2 linked regions of the Homo sapiens genome follow. The protein of the gene in region 2 interacts with the protein of the main gene of each other region in a biochemical or structural test. Each region holds a gene or a part of one and is shown on either strand. Other genes may lie near its edges.

Region 1 (7,814 bases), on a different chromosome or scaffold from region 2:
CTGTGATGTGAGGTAAGCCCAGTAAGAAAGCAGTTACACAGGGACTTTTTTAAAAAAGAGATGGTCTCACTCTCTTGCCCAGGCTGGCGTGCAGTGGCACAGTCACAGTTCTCTGCATCCTTGGTGTCTTGGGCTCAAGGGATACTCACACTGGGAGACTTGTACACCCCAATTTTAATCCTGGCTCCAGCATCAGCTGTGTTGTATGACTTGGTGAAAATTTTCACACAGAAATACATCTTCCACCATTATACATTTCTTCTGGAAGGAACTATACAGGCATGTGGCTAAGCAGACAACCACATCGCTGTTGGGAAAGGACTGGAGAGCTCACAGTAGGAGAGAGGGATGAGGGCAGACACGGGCTCTGGCCTGGAGCCAGGATTATCTGGAGGCAGCTCAGCATGACTGGCTTGTGCTGCCTGGCTTCTCCCAGGGCCCCATCATGCCATAGGAGTTAAGGGTCAAAGCATAGTTAGAAAAAAAGCACAAGCCTTTTCCTGTTAAGGCTGAGAAGGAAGCTGGACGTGAACACTCTGCTTTACTCTTAACCTTAATCATGTAAGTTATCTGACAGGAGGAGGTCAGTGACACCAGGAGTTTTACCTTGTTAACAAACCAAAATGCAGATACCTCTGCCAGATCAGAGGTAGGCAGAAGACCAATTCCAACTTCAAAATGAACATGCATGGTGTCCCAGTCTTCTAGATCTTTATACTTTCGTCTTCCTAAGTGTCAGGGAAGAAAACCAGAGGCACTAAAACTGCCAGGTTGCTGGAGGGAGGGAGTGCTGGGAACCTTGGGCGAAGCCATAGACACAAATCCCAGCGGCAGCCTGTGCAGTGCTCAGGAAGCCATGCATGGTGGGGCTGCTTCCTGCCCAACTATGGCATCTACATGAGATGCTCACTTATTTAAGCTCAACTGGAACTAAGTGGGTGACCCCTTGATTGTGCTACTACCCATTATGTACCCACCCATACCCACCACTCCAAGGCTGAACAGAAAGGGTTGTCTGACACCCAGGTTTTATTGTTTCCACTTTATTGCTCAAGCATGGAACTTGAGGCAAGCCTGGACCTTCAGCAACGTGCAGAGAAGAGGCTGAGGGGATTTTGGGACACAACCTGGCCGAGAGGGGAAACTGACAGGGGAAATACCAGAACAGGGAACAGGGGGTGGTCACCATGACACCAGAAGACATCATCAGCCACACCGTCGGGGGTGAGGAAGGGAACAGAGAGAAGAAATGGCATAGCAGTGGTTTTTCCCATGTCCCTAGCACCCACATGGAGGCCACATTTGGAAATGGACTGGGAGAGGGAAAGGATGAGGAAAACGGCTGCCCAGGAGTCTCCCTCTCCACCCTGGGTTCTTATCAGACCTCATCCCTACCACTTGCCTCTTCTACCCTTAGAAAATGGACCTAACAGAGGGAGCAAAATAAATTAACATTCTGATGAATATATATGGATGGACATATGTTCATGTGCAATGGAGGAAGGGAAGAGGGGCTGACACCAGCTAAAATGATTCCCCACCTCAATCCCCCAGCCTACACCTTTCCCCCTTCCCCTAAAGCCACCATCCAACCAGATAGAAAAATAAAGGTCTAATTCACTCAAAATTCTTCAGTTTTTACAAAACTAACAGGGTGGAGTGGGGAGACTGGGGGGCAGGCAGCCGCAGGAGTAGGGCTGGTGGAGAGGGGCTATGCTTCTGTCTCCACCTGAGACTGGCTCCCTGCCGTGTTGCTCTTCTGCTCCTCCTTCATCTCTGTGTCAGTGGGATGGTCTCCTGAGGAAGCCTCTGCCTTGGCCTGCAAGGAAGATGAACAGCAAACGGGCTGACTTCCCAAGTGAAAAAACACACACTTAATTTCCAGCAGAATTACACAGATACACCCATTCTCCTACATCTGTCCTAAAGCTATACCTGTATAGGCCAAGCCTGGTGGCTTATGCCTGTAATCCCAGCACTTTGGGAGGCTGAGGTGGTCAGATTGCTTGAGCCCAGAAGTTTGAGATCAGCCTGGGCAACATGGTGAAACCTCATCTCAACAAAAATTACAAAAATTACCTGGGCGTGGTGGCATGCACCTGTAGTCCCAGCTACTCGGGAGGCTGAGACAAGAGGATCACTTGAGCCCTGGAGGCAGAGGTTACAGTGAACTGAGACTGTGCCACTGCACTCCAGCCTGGGCGGCAGGGCAAGAGACACTGTCTCAAACAAAACAAAACAGAACACTTGTATATGTACAAATTATGAACTCATGAGGTTATTCACTGCAATGCTGTTCTAAGCAGCACTGTCCCGTATGGTAGCCACTACTGTAAGTGGCTAGTTCAAACTCGTGTTTTTAGTGCAAAATATACATTGGATTTTGAAGATGGTTTGAAAAATACACAAATGCAACTAAAATTTAATTCCATTTGTTTTTCACCTTTTTAACATGGTTACCAGAAAATTTTGAATTACATGTGGTTGATACTGTATTTCTACTGGACAGTGCTGGTTTAGAACACTGTTTAAGACTGGCTGGGTGTGGTGGCTCACACCTGTAATCCCACCACTTTGGGAGGCAGGGGTGGGCAGATCACTAAAGTCAGGAGTTCGAGAGCCTGGTCAACATGATGAAACTTCGTCTGTACTAAAAATACAAAAATTAGCCGGGTGTGGTGGCGGGCGCCTGTAATCCCAGCTACTCGGGAGGCCGAGGCAGGAGAATCGCTTGAACCCAGGAGGTGGAGTTTGCAGTGAGCCAAGATCATGCCATTGCACTCCAGCCTGGGCAACAAGAACGAAACTCTGTCTCAGAAAAAGAAAAAAAATAAAACCACTGGAAGACTAAAAAGGGACTGATTGACTAAGACAAGCCATATCCATACAATGGAATACAATGTAAGCCTAAGAAAGAATGTAAAAGTTCTTTAAATACGGATGTAAAATAAGCCTCCAGCTACTATTACGTGAAAAAAGCATAGTATGCGCCAAATCATAGGTGGAGCACGTTGCCTGTGTTAGGGGAAAGGGAGGAAGCAACAGGAACGTCTGCCTGTGCCTTGACGCAATACACTGGACCATCCAAGACCCTGAAGGGGCAGCTGCTTCTGGTGGGGGAGGCAGACTTGACTGTATACTTTGGTACAGTTTGAATTTAACTAAGTGTATTATTTATTTAATCACACACAAAAAGCATCTCGCTTTTCTTTTTTTGAGATGGGGTTTCATTTTGTCACTCAGGCTGGGGTGCAGTGGTGCCATCCTAAGTCACTGAGGTCTCTACCTACTGGGTTCAAGTGATCCTCCCACTTTGGCTCTGCAAAGTGCTGGGATTGCAGGTGTGAGCCACGGCGCCTGGCCCACAAGAAAACATAAATCGGGAATTACACTCAGGGCAACCAACCCAACTTCTGGGGCTTGTGGGTAGGTTTCCCGCACTGATCACAGAACACTGGCCCCAACAGCAGGAACACGTGCTCCTTAATGCTCCAGGGAAAAGGCAACTTCTGGTTTCCGGGATTGGCACAGACAACCAAAGGCACAAAGAGCCCACAGTAGCCAGGTTAAGTGGAGGGATGCTATTCCAACTGTTCCCCACCCCAATCCTCACCTTGTTCTCCTCCTCAGCCAGCCTCTCAAACATATTGGCATAGAGCTTCTTCTCCCGGGCAAGCTGCCTTCGGATCCGCTGCTGGCACACAGCCAGCTGGGTCTTGGCGGCTTTGTTGTTGGGGTAGAGCTGCAGGACCTTCTGGAAATCAGCCCGTGCCAGTTCAAAGTCATTCACGGCCAGGTGGGCCTCTCCCCGGCGGAAGAGGCCCTTCTCGTTGTTGCTGTCCAGTTCTAGGGCCTAAAGAATGCAGAGAGGAAGCCACATTGTGGGAGCTCAGGGCTTGTAGCTCATCTGGCCTAGACTGGGTTCCAAAGGTACCCCTCAGGAGGATGAGGAGGAATGCAAGTGGCTGGCTGCACCCCAGGAAGAACAAGGCCTGAGGCATTAAATGGAACAATCCAGGGACCTCATTTAATCCAACAGGCAGAGAGGGAAGACAGCAGGTCTTTGGATGAAATAAAGACTTCAGACATTAACATTCACTTTAGAATAAAGCAAGTAGGTAAGCGGAGAGGCTAAGAACCAAGGTGGAAGAAAACTCTTTATGTGATTCTTCCCATTCCGTGTCCTCCTCCTTCTTGCCAACTGCTTCCCACCAAAGCTAAGGTTCTTGCTATGAATACTTGCATCCGTGCCTTTGGTCTGTAACCTCAGAGCTCCCACTGATCCACCCTGCTATCCCTGCCCTAGTCACCAAGGGGAAGTTTCAGACATGCTGGCAGCTCACCCAACTCTGCCTGTGAATGCTGCTTCCATGACCTCTGAGGGGGCCTCACCTTGTTACAGCTTTCAATGGCAGCAGAGAAGGCCTGTAGTTTCAGATGACACATGGCCAGGTTGAGGTGAGAGGCCAGTCGAAGGGCCTGTGCTTTCTGTGCTTCCTCATTGGAAAAACTAGACTCATATTCCAGCCAAGACACGATCTTCTTATACTGTAGTAAAGCTTGCTTGTATTTACCTTCCTGGAATGGGAGAGAGGCTCAGGCACCTGGCACAGTTTCAGTGGTACTAGGCTCTTATACCCTGCAGACATCAGTGACACATGGCCACAAGAGGTTCCTGCTCCCACCCTTCCCACTGGCAAGGCCAGCAAGCTCACATATATGAAGTGAAGATGGCAGGTGCCAACCTGTCCACTTCTTGGCAGAAAATGATCTCAGTCACCAAGGGAAGGGGAGGCTCAGAGCAACTCTTCCTGGGAGTGTCCTTAGGACAATGACTGTTGGCTCACCTTGAAGTACACAGTGCCCCGCTCTTTCACTATGGTGCTCTGTTCCAGCTTCTCTTCTGAATTCATCTCCCAAGACTCCTTGGCCTGCCACACCCCAGGAGAGAAACAAAGTTGTCAGCTACCCCAGAGTCACGTACAGGGTGGAACTTGACTTTAGATGGGAAGACCCTGAGCAAACTTACCTTTTCAAAACTCTTGAGGTGTAATTCATATTTCAGCTCAGCATTTGGTGGGATTTGGAACTTTTCCTTCCCAACACTGCCAAAAGCATAGCTGGAGGGGTGAAAAACACTATGTATCATCTTGGCAACACTTAACCTGCTCCAGGCTGAAAAGGCTTCCTGTCCATTTCCTGGAAAGTACCTTCCCATCCCTTGAGACTTGGTTCAAATGTTTGGCAAATCTTCCCTGGCCTCTTCACACTGTCAGATGGTCCCTCAGCATCCTTCATACCCTTCTAATAACTTACAGCCAGGCAGCAGTGTGATTACTAATTTAAATAGCACCTCACTAAACAATGAGCTAGAATTAGAAGGCAGAAACAATGTTCTATTAGTCTCTGAAGCCCTATAGGAATTTTCAGCAGTGCCTGGCATGTAGTAGCTGTTTCAGTAATGACTGAAATGAATTAATGGGAGAGGAAAATCTTGATGGCAGAGGAGAGAATCTGTAGCAACTATGACTGAAAAGACTGGGCTTAGATCCAAGGAGATGTAGACAATTGGGCCATACTTCTAAGTACACTGAGGATATCATAATGGTGTATGTTTGGTGTGGCCAGAGTTAAAAAGGATACAAACAGCTGGTTCTACAATTCATTTTATATCTTTGATCTTGGTTTGCCTGCCTGCCTACCCTACGAAGTGCCCACCCCTCACCTGGGCTTGAGGTACACGATGGAATGTTCTCCTTTCTCCATGCGCTGAATGGCCCTCTCCAGACCATAAGGCAGATCCAGGTTCTCCCCCTCGCCAATCTCAAAGCGGAGCTCCCGCTGGTCAAAGAGCTTGTCCTTGTAGTACCCTTCCAGTGCAACTGGCATGAAAGAGAGGCAGTGTACCAGAGTTGTAAGAGGGCAGGTGACTGAGGAAGGATGCCATCAGCCTCCCTGCATCACCCCCATCATCCCAAGATTCTCCTGTGTTCTCAAATCTGGAGTGATATGAAGAGAATATGGTCCAACCCCTCATTTTATGGACAAGAAGATAGGCTCGGAGAACGGAAGTGTCTTGCCCAAAGCCACACAAGGCCTAAATATCAGAATGAGAATTGAAAGCCCAGACTGTACTGTCTCACCCTCCACGATAGCACCCTCATTGGGCTTAGCATAGCCTTCACCGCGAGTCTGTATTCTGCGAATGATTCCGCCATCTTCCTCTTCCGTCAGATCTTCTCCCTTAAACTCAAACAACTCCACCTGTGGGACAAGATGTGACACAATTCCTTCCCATGCTAACTCATGGGCAGTGAAACACAATCTTTCTCATCCGAGAGAGTCCCTACTAACTGCCAGGCCGGATCTGACCACAAGGGCAGTCACAAGGAGTTGGGTAGAGTGGCACTTTTTTTCAGTTCTTGGGAGCTGCCCTAATCTCAACTTTGGTAGAGGTGGGCAGACTACATAGATTTCAGTTAAGCTGAGGAGAGCAATCTATTTGCTACCTGCTCTACTAACACGGACATATCAGGACGCGTCCCAGATAATCCTAATTCACACTACCTGATAAGCCCAACCTGGTAGGTATTAGAAATGATTACCCAACATCTCTCAGCAGTTTCTCAGTATTCAAGGGCCCACGGATTGGCTCAACCATTTTCAGATTGAACAATGTCAAGTTCTATCTCCTCAGTGAAGCCTTTTCTCAGCCCTTGACCCACAGGGGAGCTACTGCTCCCTCTTCTGGTCTCTAGAGCACCAATATTCTGTACTGCCATTTATAACGGGACATAGTTTCTGACATCCCGACTCCTTTCAGTATTCTTCTGGGTACCGCTCTGGAGATAAAGATGCCTTAACCCTGACCATGCTTTGAGTCTGGAGAGGGGCTTGTGCCTGCCTCTTCCCACCCGAAGCTTCTATTACTTCCATTACTAGCAGCAGCAGAGCCCTCTGCATTTCTCCTCCCATAAGGCCAGACCCTCAGCCTTGGCTACATTGTCTCCAAGAAGCAGGAAGGGCTGGAGGGCAGCCAGGCATTGGGCTGAGATAAGGCCTGGCTCTTAGCCTGGATCTCAGTGACCAAACACTCACCTCAAATACAAGCGTGGCATTGGGGGGAATCTTTGGAGGACTGCCTGCTGAACCGTAGGCATATTCTGGTTTGCAGGTGATGTGGCACACCTCCCCCACCTTCATGGTGGCTATGGCAATGTCCCAAGCCTTGATGACCTCCCCTGCAGGTACAGAAGCAAACAGGACCGCCTTAGCAGGGTTCTGATTCTGGGCTCAAACAGTGCTCCTGAAGAGTTACTGCACCACACTCATGGGGAAGCTGGACATCCTTTAGAAATGGGACCAGAAGGTGAGGTACCTGGTTGTATTAAGTGCTACCAGGTCTAAGAACTGTAAAAGATCACGTGACCCTGAACAAAAGAGTTTAAGATGCAAGACAGTCCACCTTTGAAGGGGGAGTAAGGTGTTGGGAGGTGATGAGGAGAAGGGGAGACAGAGATCAATATAGTTACAGAACGGTAGAAAAAAAAAAAAAAGAGTGACCGAAAGAGTTAACAGACTGTGATAAACCATTCCTCCCTGAGCTTGGTCCTGAGAAAATGGTTTCTGCTTGTGACAGCTTGTGTCCACCTCGAACCTATCCTACCAGCCCACTGACCACGCCTACCTTTTCCCAGGTCAAAGGAGAATTTGTCCTTGCGATCCAGACTGGAGTCAAACTTTGTGCCATCTAATAGCCAGCCAGTGTAGTGGACAAAGACTCGGTCCCCAATCATGGGCATCTCTGTACCTGT
Region 2 (8,767 bases):
ATGATGAAACCCCATCTCTACTAAAAATACAAAAATTAGCGTGCCTGTAATCCCAGCTACTCAAGAGGATGAGGCAGGAGAATCGCTAGAACCTGTGGGGGTGGAGATTGCAGTGAGCCAGGATTGCACCAGTGCACTCCAGCCTGGGTGACAGAGCAAGGCTCCATCTCAGAAAAAAAAAAAAAAAAAAAAGTGCATTAGTGGAAGAAAAATTAACTAGTGACACTATGTTCACTCAGTGGAATATGACTCAGACATTAAAAATTAAGGCCATATAATAGTATGGATGGCGGGCACAGTGGCTCATGCCTGTAATCCTAGCTTTGGGAGGCTGAGGTGGGCGGATCACGAGGTCAGATCGGGACCATCCTGGCTAACACGGTGAAACCCGCCTCTACTAAAAATGCAAAAAATTAGCCCGGCATGGTGTCTGGCGCCTGTAGTCCAGCTACTGGAGAGGCTGAGGCAGGAGAATGGCGTGAACCCGGGAGGCGGAGCTTGCAGTGAAGCAAGATGGCACCACTGCACTCCAGCCTGGGCGACAGAGCCAGACTCGGTCTCAAAATAAAATAAAATATAATAAAATATAATAAAATAAAAAATAGTATGGACAATGCTTATTATAATAAAATATTATTACAATTATGTAAAACCAAGACACTATATGAAAAAAAGAAAAGCCTGCAAAGAAATACACCAAAGCAATTTTTAACAGTGATTGCCTTTAGAAATGGAATTAGGGATGATTTTTTAAAATTCCTTCTATTTCTCTGATGTTTCTGTAATGAATACATATGATTTTTCAGATGGGAAACAAATTCAATAAATTGTATATTTTTAACTGTCCAGTTGATGCATTCCAAGAAGGTAAAGTAACAAAATCCAAATAAATGTACAGCATACCCATAAACTCAAATCACCCAACCTATTCCTTAAGATCGGAATTGTGGTTGTATGAGAATATTTAGGAAGGTCAAGATCTTCCCCTTTAAAGGTGATTTAAGATAAACCAAAGATGCTAGCTAATATGTCCATATAACCAAATACAAGCTAATTTGTTTTGTTTTGTTTTGTTTTTTGAGATGGAGTCTGGCTCTATCACCCAGGCTGGAGTTCAGTGGCGTGATCTCAGCTCACTGCAACCTTGACTTCCAAGGTTCAAGCGATTCTCCCACTTCAGCCTCCTGAGTAGCTGGGATTATAGGTGCACACCACCATGCCCAGCTAATTTTTGTATTTTTTCATTTTGTAGAGGTGGGGTTTGTAGAGATGTTGGCCAGGCTGGTCTCGAACTCCTGACCTCAAGTGATCCACCTGCCTTGGCCTCCCAAAGTGCTGGGATTACAGGCATGAGCCACGGTGCCCGGCCACAAGTTAATTTAAATGAGATGTTTAACTGAATTTTTAAAAGTCAGATTATAAGGCTGGTGTGATGGCTCAGGCTGCAATCCCAGCACTTTGGGAGGCCAAGGCAGGAGGATTGCTTTAGCCCAGGAGTTCAACACCAGCCTGGGCAACATAGGAAGGGCCCGTCTCTATTAAAAATAAATAAATAAATGTCGGATTATGTATTTTCTGGTATTTTTCCTTCTTTCTGAATCTTAAAATACATACAGAAAATTAGTCGGTCTCCAAAATTTTCCACAAGTGCACTAATTAGAATAAGTCCTGGAAACAGAGGATTTGTATAATAAAATTCTAATCAGGTAACATATTATGTGGTATATCTTCATTACCACTCAAGAAACTTTTATATACATAATATATTTCAAAATCAAAACTCAAACTACTTACTGGAATTGTTGAGGATGGAAACTGGCAGAGGAAATAGTCCCTGAAGTGGGATGAGCTACCTAGGATGTGAATTAAGGCAAATAAAGTAAAATATAGAAGGCCAGGCACGGTGGCTCATGCCTGTAATTCCAGCACTTTGGGAGGCTGAGGCAGGAGGATTACTTGAGCTCAGGAGTTCGAGACCAGCCTGGCCAACATGGTGAAACCCCATCTCTACTAAAAATACAAATTAGGCCGGGGGCGGTGGCTCACGTTTGTAATCCTAGCACTTTGGGAGGCCGAGGCGGATGGATCACCTGAGGTCGGGATTTCGAGACCAGCCTGACCAATATGGTGAAACCCCATCTCTACTAAAAATACAAAAATTAGCCAGGCGTGGTGGCGTTCATTTGTAATCCCAGCTACTGGAGAGGCTAAGACAGGAGAATTGCTTGAACCTGGGAGGTGGAGATTGCAGTGAGCTGAGATCAGGCCACTGCATTCCAGCCTGGGCAACAGAGAGAGACTCCATCTCAGAAAAAAAACTACCACCACTACTACTACTACTACTACTACTACTACTACTACTACTACTACTGCTACTACTACTACTACTAATAATAATAATACAAATTACACTTGGGAGGCTGAGGCAGGGGAATGGCTTGAACCTGGGAGGCGGAGGTTGCAGTGGGCCGACATTGCAGAGTGCGGCACTGCACTCCAGCCTGACCACAGAGCAAGACTCCGTCTCAAAAATAATAATAATAATAATAATAATAATAATAATAATAATAATAACAACAATAACAACAACAACATAAATTCGCCTGGCATCGTGGCGCAACCCTGTAGTCCCAACTACTTAGGAGGCTGAGGTGGAAGGATCTCTTGAGCCCAGGAGTGAGCCGAGATCGTACCACTACTGCACTCCAGCCTGGGTGACAGAGTGAGGCCCTGTTTCAAAAAAAAAAAAAAACCAAAAAAGCAAAACCCTAGAAATTCCTTTTAAAGATCTCCTTTCTATCCGGTAACTGCAGAGAGTTGACATAGAATTGCATTGTTTCTTTAGCTTAATCGGTTACTTTCGGAATGTCACTCTCATCAATTAACATGTTATCCTTTCTTTCTCTCTGTTTCTCTCTTTTGGAACGCACTGGCCATCACGGCTCACTGTAACCCTGGACTCCTGGCCTTGGCCCCCAGAAGAGCCGAGACAACAGGCAAGGCGTGTGCCGCCGCGCCAGTCCTCACCCGCTGTCCTTCCCCAAATAGTGTCTTTATATAACTCAGTGGCAATGCCGTAGTCCAGCAGGGAGGCCGCCCTGGGCAGCGCCTGCCTGGCCAGCTCCTGCCCGGGAGGGCACCGTCCTCTCCCCTCCGGAGAGGTCCCGGTCACTGCCTGCCTGGGCCGGTTCCAGGCAGCCCTGCGCGCCTGTGCACCGTGCGCCTGTGATTGGACATCTCTGGGTCTCTGGACAGCTGCCGGGGTCACGCGCCGCCGGTGAAACGACGTCTCCACAAAGAGAGGAGCAGAGGCCCCCAGGGATCCCGGAGGGCAGGGCAACGCGGCAATTGCCCCGACCCCAGGGCGGCCGCGCGTGTCCTCGGGGGACGCAGCCTCTTCCCCGCTCCCCGGCTCCTGGAAGAGACGCGACCCAGGCGGGGACGCGGCGCTGAGCGAGGAGGCGCTGGGGCTGCGAAGCGTGCGACCCCGAGGCCTCCACCCGGACCAGGGCCACCACTCAGGCGGCGGCGCCGGCGCCGGATCCAGCCCGAGCCCCGCGCAGCCCAAAGGATACGACAGCCCCGGCCGAGGGGCGGCCGAGGTGGCCCAGAACAATCTGCAGACGGGCGGCGGCGCGAAGCTGCTCCATGGCTGCGGCGCGGGGAACCCCCACCCCTCCCGGCCTCTGCCCCATTTAGCCCAGCGGGCGGCTCCGCCTCCAGGCGCCGCCCCGGACTGGACGTAAGCGGGATTCCGGGCGGTGCCAGCTCGCGGGCCGGGCTGCTGGGGAGCCCTAGTCCGCTAGAGTCCGCGCGCCGGGCAACCGCCCGGGGCTGAAGTCCTCCCCACACCATGATCCTTCCGTCCTTTATTTTCTTTCTTTTTAAAAAGAAACAAGATCTTGCTCTGTCGCCCAGGCTGGAGTGCAGTGCGCGATCATAGCTCACTGCAGCCTTGAACTCTTGGGCTAATTTTTATTTTTTGTAGAGATGGGGTCTCGCTACGTTGCCCAGGTGGGTCTCAAACTCCCCCCGCCTCCCGTCTCGACCTCCCAAAGTGCTGGGACTACAGGCGTGAGTCATTACCCCTGCCCCGCACCCTGTTTCTGTTCCATCACCAGGACCCTCCCTGCCGCACCGAAGCTCGGGGGCCCAGTGACCAGGCCGAGGTCACACAGTGACAAGTGGCTGGGCTGGGACCTCACTCACTCTCCTAACGTCATGGCTTCCATCTGTTTAACCCTACGTGACTGCTCCTTCCACTGACAGCTGAAAGAATAAAATCTCCGATTTAAACAAAAAGTTTGCCGGGCGCGGTGGCTCACGCCTGTAATCCCAGCACTTTGGGAGGCCAAGGCAGGCGGATCACGGGGTCAGGAGTTCGAGACCAGCCTGGCCAACTTGGTGAAAACCCGTCTCTACTAAAGATACAAAAATTAGCTGAGTGTTGTGGCGCACGCCTGTAATCCCAGCTACTGGGGAGGCTGAGGCAAGAGAATCACTTGCAACCGGGAGGCGGAGGATGCAGTCAGCGAGATGGCGCCACTGCATTCCAGCCTGGGTGACAGGGCAAGACTCCGTCTCTAAACAAACAAACAAACAAACAAACAGGTTTTTAGCCGGGTGCGGTGGCTCACGCCCGTAACTCCAACACTTTGGGAGGCCGAGGCAGGAGGATCGCTTGAGCTCAGGATCGCTATAGATCGAAAGCAGCCTGGGTAACATAGTGAGAACACCTGATCTACAAAAAAATTAGCCGGGCGTCGTGGCGGGCGCCTGTAGTCCCAGCTACTCAGGAGGCTGAGGCAGGAGAACGGTGTAAACCCAGGAGGCGGACCTTGCAGTGAGCGAGATGGCGCCACCGCACTCCAGCCTGGGCGACAGAGCAAGACTCCGTCTCAAAAAAAATAAAAAATAAATCAATAAATTAAATAAATAAAAATTCCAGACATTGTATGAGGAAGCATTGCAAAACTTTCTGTTCTGTTAGCTGTTGCCTGTAGCCCCCAGTCATGTTCCCCACGCTTGCTCGATCTCTCACTAAACTTTCACGTAGACCCTTAGAGTTACAAGCCCTTAAAAGGGCCAAGAATTTCTTTTTCAGGGACCTCGGTTGCAAGTCTGCCGAAGTTCCCGGCCTAATACAGCCCTTCTTTAATCCGGTGTCTGAGTTTTGTCTGCGGCTCGTCCTGCTGCAGGAGGATCACCTGAGCCCGGGAGTTTGAAGTTGCAGTGAGCCCAGATCGTGCCTCTGCACTCCAGCCTGGGCGACAGAGTGAGGCCATGTCCAAAAAACACAAAAACAAAAAACAAACAAAACTCCAAAACATCAATGAAGTTTTGAAAATAAAAATAAAAAAATAAAAATGCTAAGATGCATCCCTAAAAGTCATATGTGCCATTCAAAAGGGGTATTTCATTTAGTGGGACTCCAGCCCAAAATATTAGAAAGTTCGGTTGGTCATAAAAAAAAAAAAAGTGAATAAAATAAATGACCTCCAGAAAAGTCTGATGCACACAGGCCAGTATGGTGTAAATTTCTTAGATAACTCCAGCATCTCTTTGTAAGATTTATTTTCCATTCCATAACTACGGATATTGACATAGCATCTCATTGTTTCTTTAGTTTCATTTTTTCATTGATTTTTTGTTCTTTTTTAGCTTCGAGTTACTTCCAGAACGTCGCAGCACACGTTATCACTTCCTGCATGACGTCTTTATAGAATTTGGTGACAATGTCGCAGTCCAGGAGGGAGGCCCGCAGCCAGCATCACCAGCCCCTTCCTGTTTGCACAGGCAGGGAGGAGAACGGCAGCTCCCAGGCTTCCACTGGGGAGTCCCTCCGGCTTTCTCCGGGATTCCGCCCGCCCCAGGGTCTCAGACCAACAGAAGGACCCGGGATCCCTCAGCAGCTCCGGACCTCATCTGCCCCACTTCGGCATCCCGCGCGGGAATATGACCATGTAGGAGTAACCCGGGGCTCTCAAGGACTCTACGGTTTGTCACGGTTTGAACGCAAGCGCAGGGCCTGGGGCGGGTGCAGGTGGAGGGTCGGCCTCTTTCTGCCCTTGGGAACGCCCCTTTCTGGATGTGGACCGGCGAGGCGGTCTCTCCTTTCTGCCCTCGCCTGGTGAAATGTGGGCACTGCTGCCAGGAGAAAAAAAACTGAAGCTGTGAATTCAGTTCATCACCCTTCCCTTGTTTATTAAAAAATCGGACCTTGGCCGGGCGCGGTGGCTCACGCCTGTAATCCCAGCACTTTGGGAGGCCGAGGCAGGCAGATTAGGAGGTCAGGAGATCGAGACCATCTTGGTTAACACGGTGAAGCCCGGTCTCTACTAAAAATACAAAAAAGTTAGCAGGGTGGTGGCGGTCGCCTGTTGTCCCAGCTGCTCGGGAGGCTGAGGCAGGAGAATGGCGTGAACCCGGGAGGCGGAGCTTGCAGTGAGCCGAGGTCGTGCCACTGCACTCCAGCCTGGGTGAAAAAATAAAAAAAAAAAAAGATCAGGACCTTTACCCGCGCTGACGGTGATTGGTTTTCATGACCAATAAAGAAATTCGAATGAGATGAAGCTACTTACACCTGTGTTTTTACTGTTCCTTTAAAATGCCCTAATTTCACAACCATGTGAAAATTCCTGCCATCTCTCCCCCAAGGCATTTATACAAGGATGTACTTAGATATTTAGATGTATTTAAATTTATGCTTTTCTTTTCTTTTTTTTTTTTTTTTGAGACGGAGTCTGACTCTGTTTCCCAGGCTGGAGTGCAGGGCGTGATCTCGGCTCACTGCGACCTCTGCCTTCCGGGTTCAAGAGATTCTCCTGACTCAGCCTCCTGAGTAGCTGGGATTACAGGCGCGCCATCAAGCTCAGCTAATTTTTTGTATTTTTAGTAGAGCCAGTTTCACCATTTTGGCCAGGCTGGTCTCGAACTCATGACCTCAAGTGATCCGCCCGCCTCAACCTCCCAAAGTGCTGGGATTACAGGCGTAAACCACCGCACCCGGCCCAAACTGATGCTTTTTACCGACAGATGAAGGAAATTCTTAAATGCTCACAATTGTTATCTGCCTTTTTAAAATTAGAGGGATGCTGGGTTTAACATTTTTCATTTAAGATCCCACGGAGAATTAACATAATAATTTCTCCGTAGGTAAAGAGGTAATTTGATGAATGTTACTAGTTTTCTTTCAAATAGCTATTTGGATTATTGGAAAATTCCCTAAGTAGGCATCTTTAATAATTATGTTATTAAAATAAAAATATTTTAGAACAATTGAAGCAGAACATTAATGGAATGTAAACATTATCACAAGAATGAAAAGTTCTTTCCCCTTTGGTATTAGGCATTTATTCATTTCTTATTAAAGTTGACCTTTTGAAGATTACTTCAAAATTAGCTTCCCCCCACTTCCAGTAATGTGCTTGGTTACTTACGTATTGAAAGTAACCTTGCAGACAAGTTTTGAAACACAATTTTCAAAATGATCTAAGGAATAGTTTTCCCCATATATATAAATTAAATGATTTGTTAAATAATAGCCATATTTGAACAGCTAAGTAAAATGTTTGAGTTTTAAAATCTTGGATTAAATTGTTCAAACTGGCTAGGGGAAGTGGGTCACGCCTGTAATCCCAGCACTTTGAGAGGCTGAGGCAGGTGGATCACCTGAGGTCAGGAGCTCCAGACCAGTCTGGCTAACATGTTAAAAACCCGTCTCTACTAAAAGTACCAAAAAAAAAAAAAAAAAAATTAGCTGGGCGTGGTGGCACATGCCTGTAATCCCAGCTACTCAGGAGGCCGGGGCAGGAGAATCGCTTGAACCCGGGAGGTGGAGGTTGCAGTGAGCCGAGATAGCGTCATTGCACTCCAGCTTGGGCAACACGAGTGAAACTCCATCTCAAACAAAGAAACAAACACAAAAACGAAAACCAGAAAACAAACAAACAAACAAAAACCCCAGAAAATTAGCTGAGCGTGGCACACCTGTAGTACCAGCCACTTGAGAGGCTGATGTGGGAGGATCGCTTGAGCCCAGGAGGTGGAGGTTGAAGTGAGCCAATATTGTGCCACTGCACTCCAGCCTGGGCGACAGAGCAAGACTGTGTTTCAAAAACAAAATAATAAATTAAATAAATAAATAAATAGTTGAAGCCAAGCATGGTGGCTCCCGCCTGTAATGTCAGCACTTTGGCAGGTCGAGGCAGAGGATTGCTTGAACCAAGAGGCTCGAGACCAGCCTGGGCAACATAGCAAGACTTCGCCTCTACAAAAAATTTTAAAAAGAAATAGCGGGGTGCAGTGGCGCACGTGTAGTCCTAGCTACTCCAGAGTCTGAGGCAGGAGGATTGCTTGAGCTCAGGGTTCTAGGCTGCAGTGAGCCATGATCCCCTACTGTACTCCAGCCTGAGTGATAGAGATCCTATCTCTAAAATTTATTTTAAAAAGTTTAAAAAGTTAGCTGGGTGTGGTGGCTTATGCCTGTAATCCAGCATTTTGGGAGGCTGAGGCGGGTGGATCACAAGGTCAGGAGTTTGAGACCAGCCTGGCCAAAATGGTGAAACCCTGTCTCTACTAAAAAAATAAAAAAATTAGCCAGGCATGGTGGTGGGCGCCTGTGGTCCCAGCTACTCAGGAGGCTGAGGCAGGAGAATCGCTTGAACCCGGGAGGCAAATGTTGCAGTGAGGTGAGACTGCACCACCGTATTCCAGCCTGGGCAACAGAGAGAGATTCCAAAAATAATAATAATAACAATAATAAGTT

What was found. The genes of interacting proteins can lie anywhere in the genome.
Region 1: the proteins of PHYH (region 2) and FKBP4 form a complex in vitro, tested with the Homo sapiens proteins (one study listed by BioGRID).

What each region holds. Positions count from the first base shown.
Region 1 is NC_000012.12:2,797,156-2,804,969, reverse strand, and holds part of FKBP4 (peptidyl-prolyl cis-trans isomerase FKBP4), read right to left. Parts: coding exon 7,688-7,814; intron 7,242-7,687; coding exon 7,099-7,241; intron 6,265-7,098; coding exon 6,144-6,264; intron 5,883-6,143; coding exon 5,726-5,882; intron 5,121-5,725; coding exon 5,030-5,120; intron 4,932-5,029; coding exon 4,848-4,931; intron 4,579-4,847; coding exon 4,393-4,578; intron 3,854-4,392; coding exon 3,614-3,853; intron 1,820-3,613; coding exon 1,712-1,819; 3' UTR 1-1,711. UniProt on the Homo sapiens protein: Immunophilin protein with PPIase and co-chaperone activities. Component of steroid receptors heterocomplexes through interaction with heat-shock protein 90 (HSP90).
Region 2 is NC_000010.11:13,296,393-13,305,159, forward strand, and holds the start of PHYH (phytanoyl-CoA dioxygenase, peroxisomal isoform a precursor), read right to left. Parts: upstream 3,673-8,767; 5' UTR 3,651-3,672; coding exon 3,576-3,650; intron 3,372-3,575; exon of another isoform or gene 3,028-3,371; intron 1,854-3,027; coding exon 1,795-1,853; intron 1-1,794. UniProt on the Homo sapiens protein: Catalyzes the 2-hydroxylation of not only racemic phytanoyl-CoA and the isomers of 3-methylhexadecanoyl-CoA, but also a variety of other mono-branched 3-methylacyl-CoA esters (with a chain length of at least seven carbon atoms) and straight-chain acyl-CoA esters (with a chain length longer than four carbon atoms).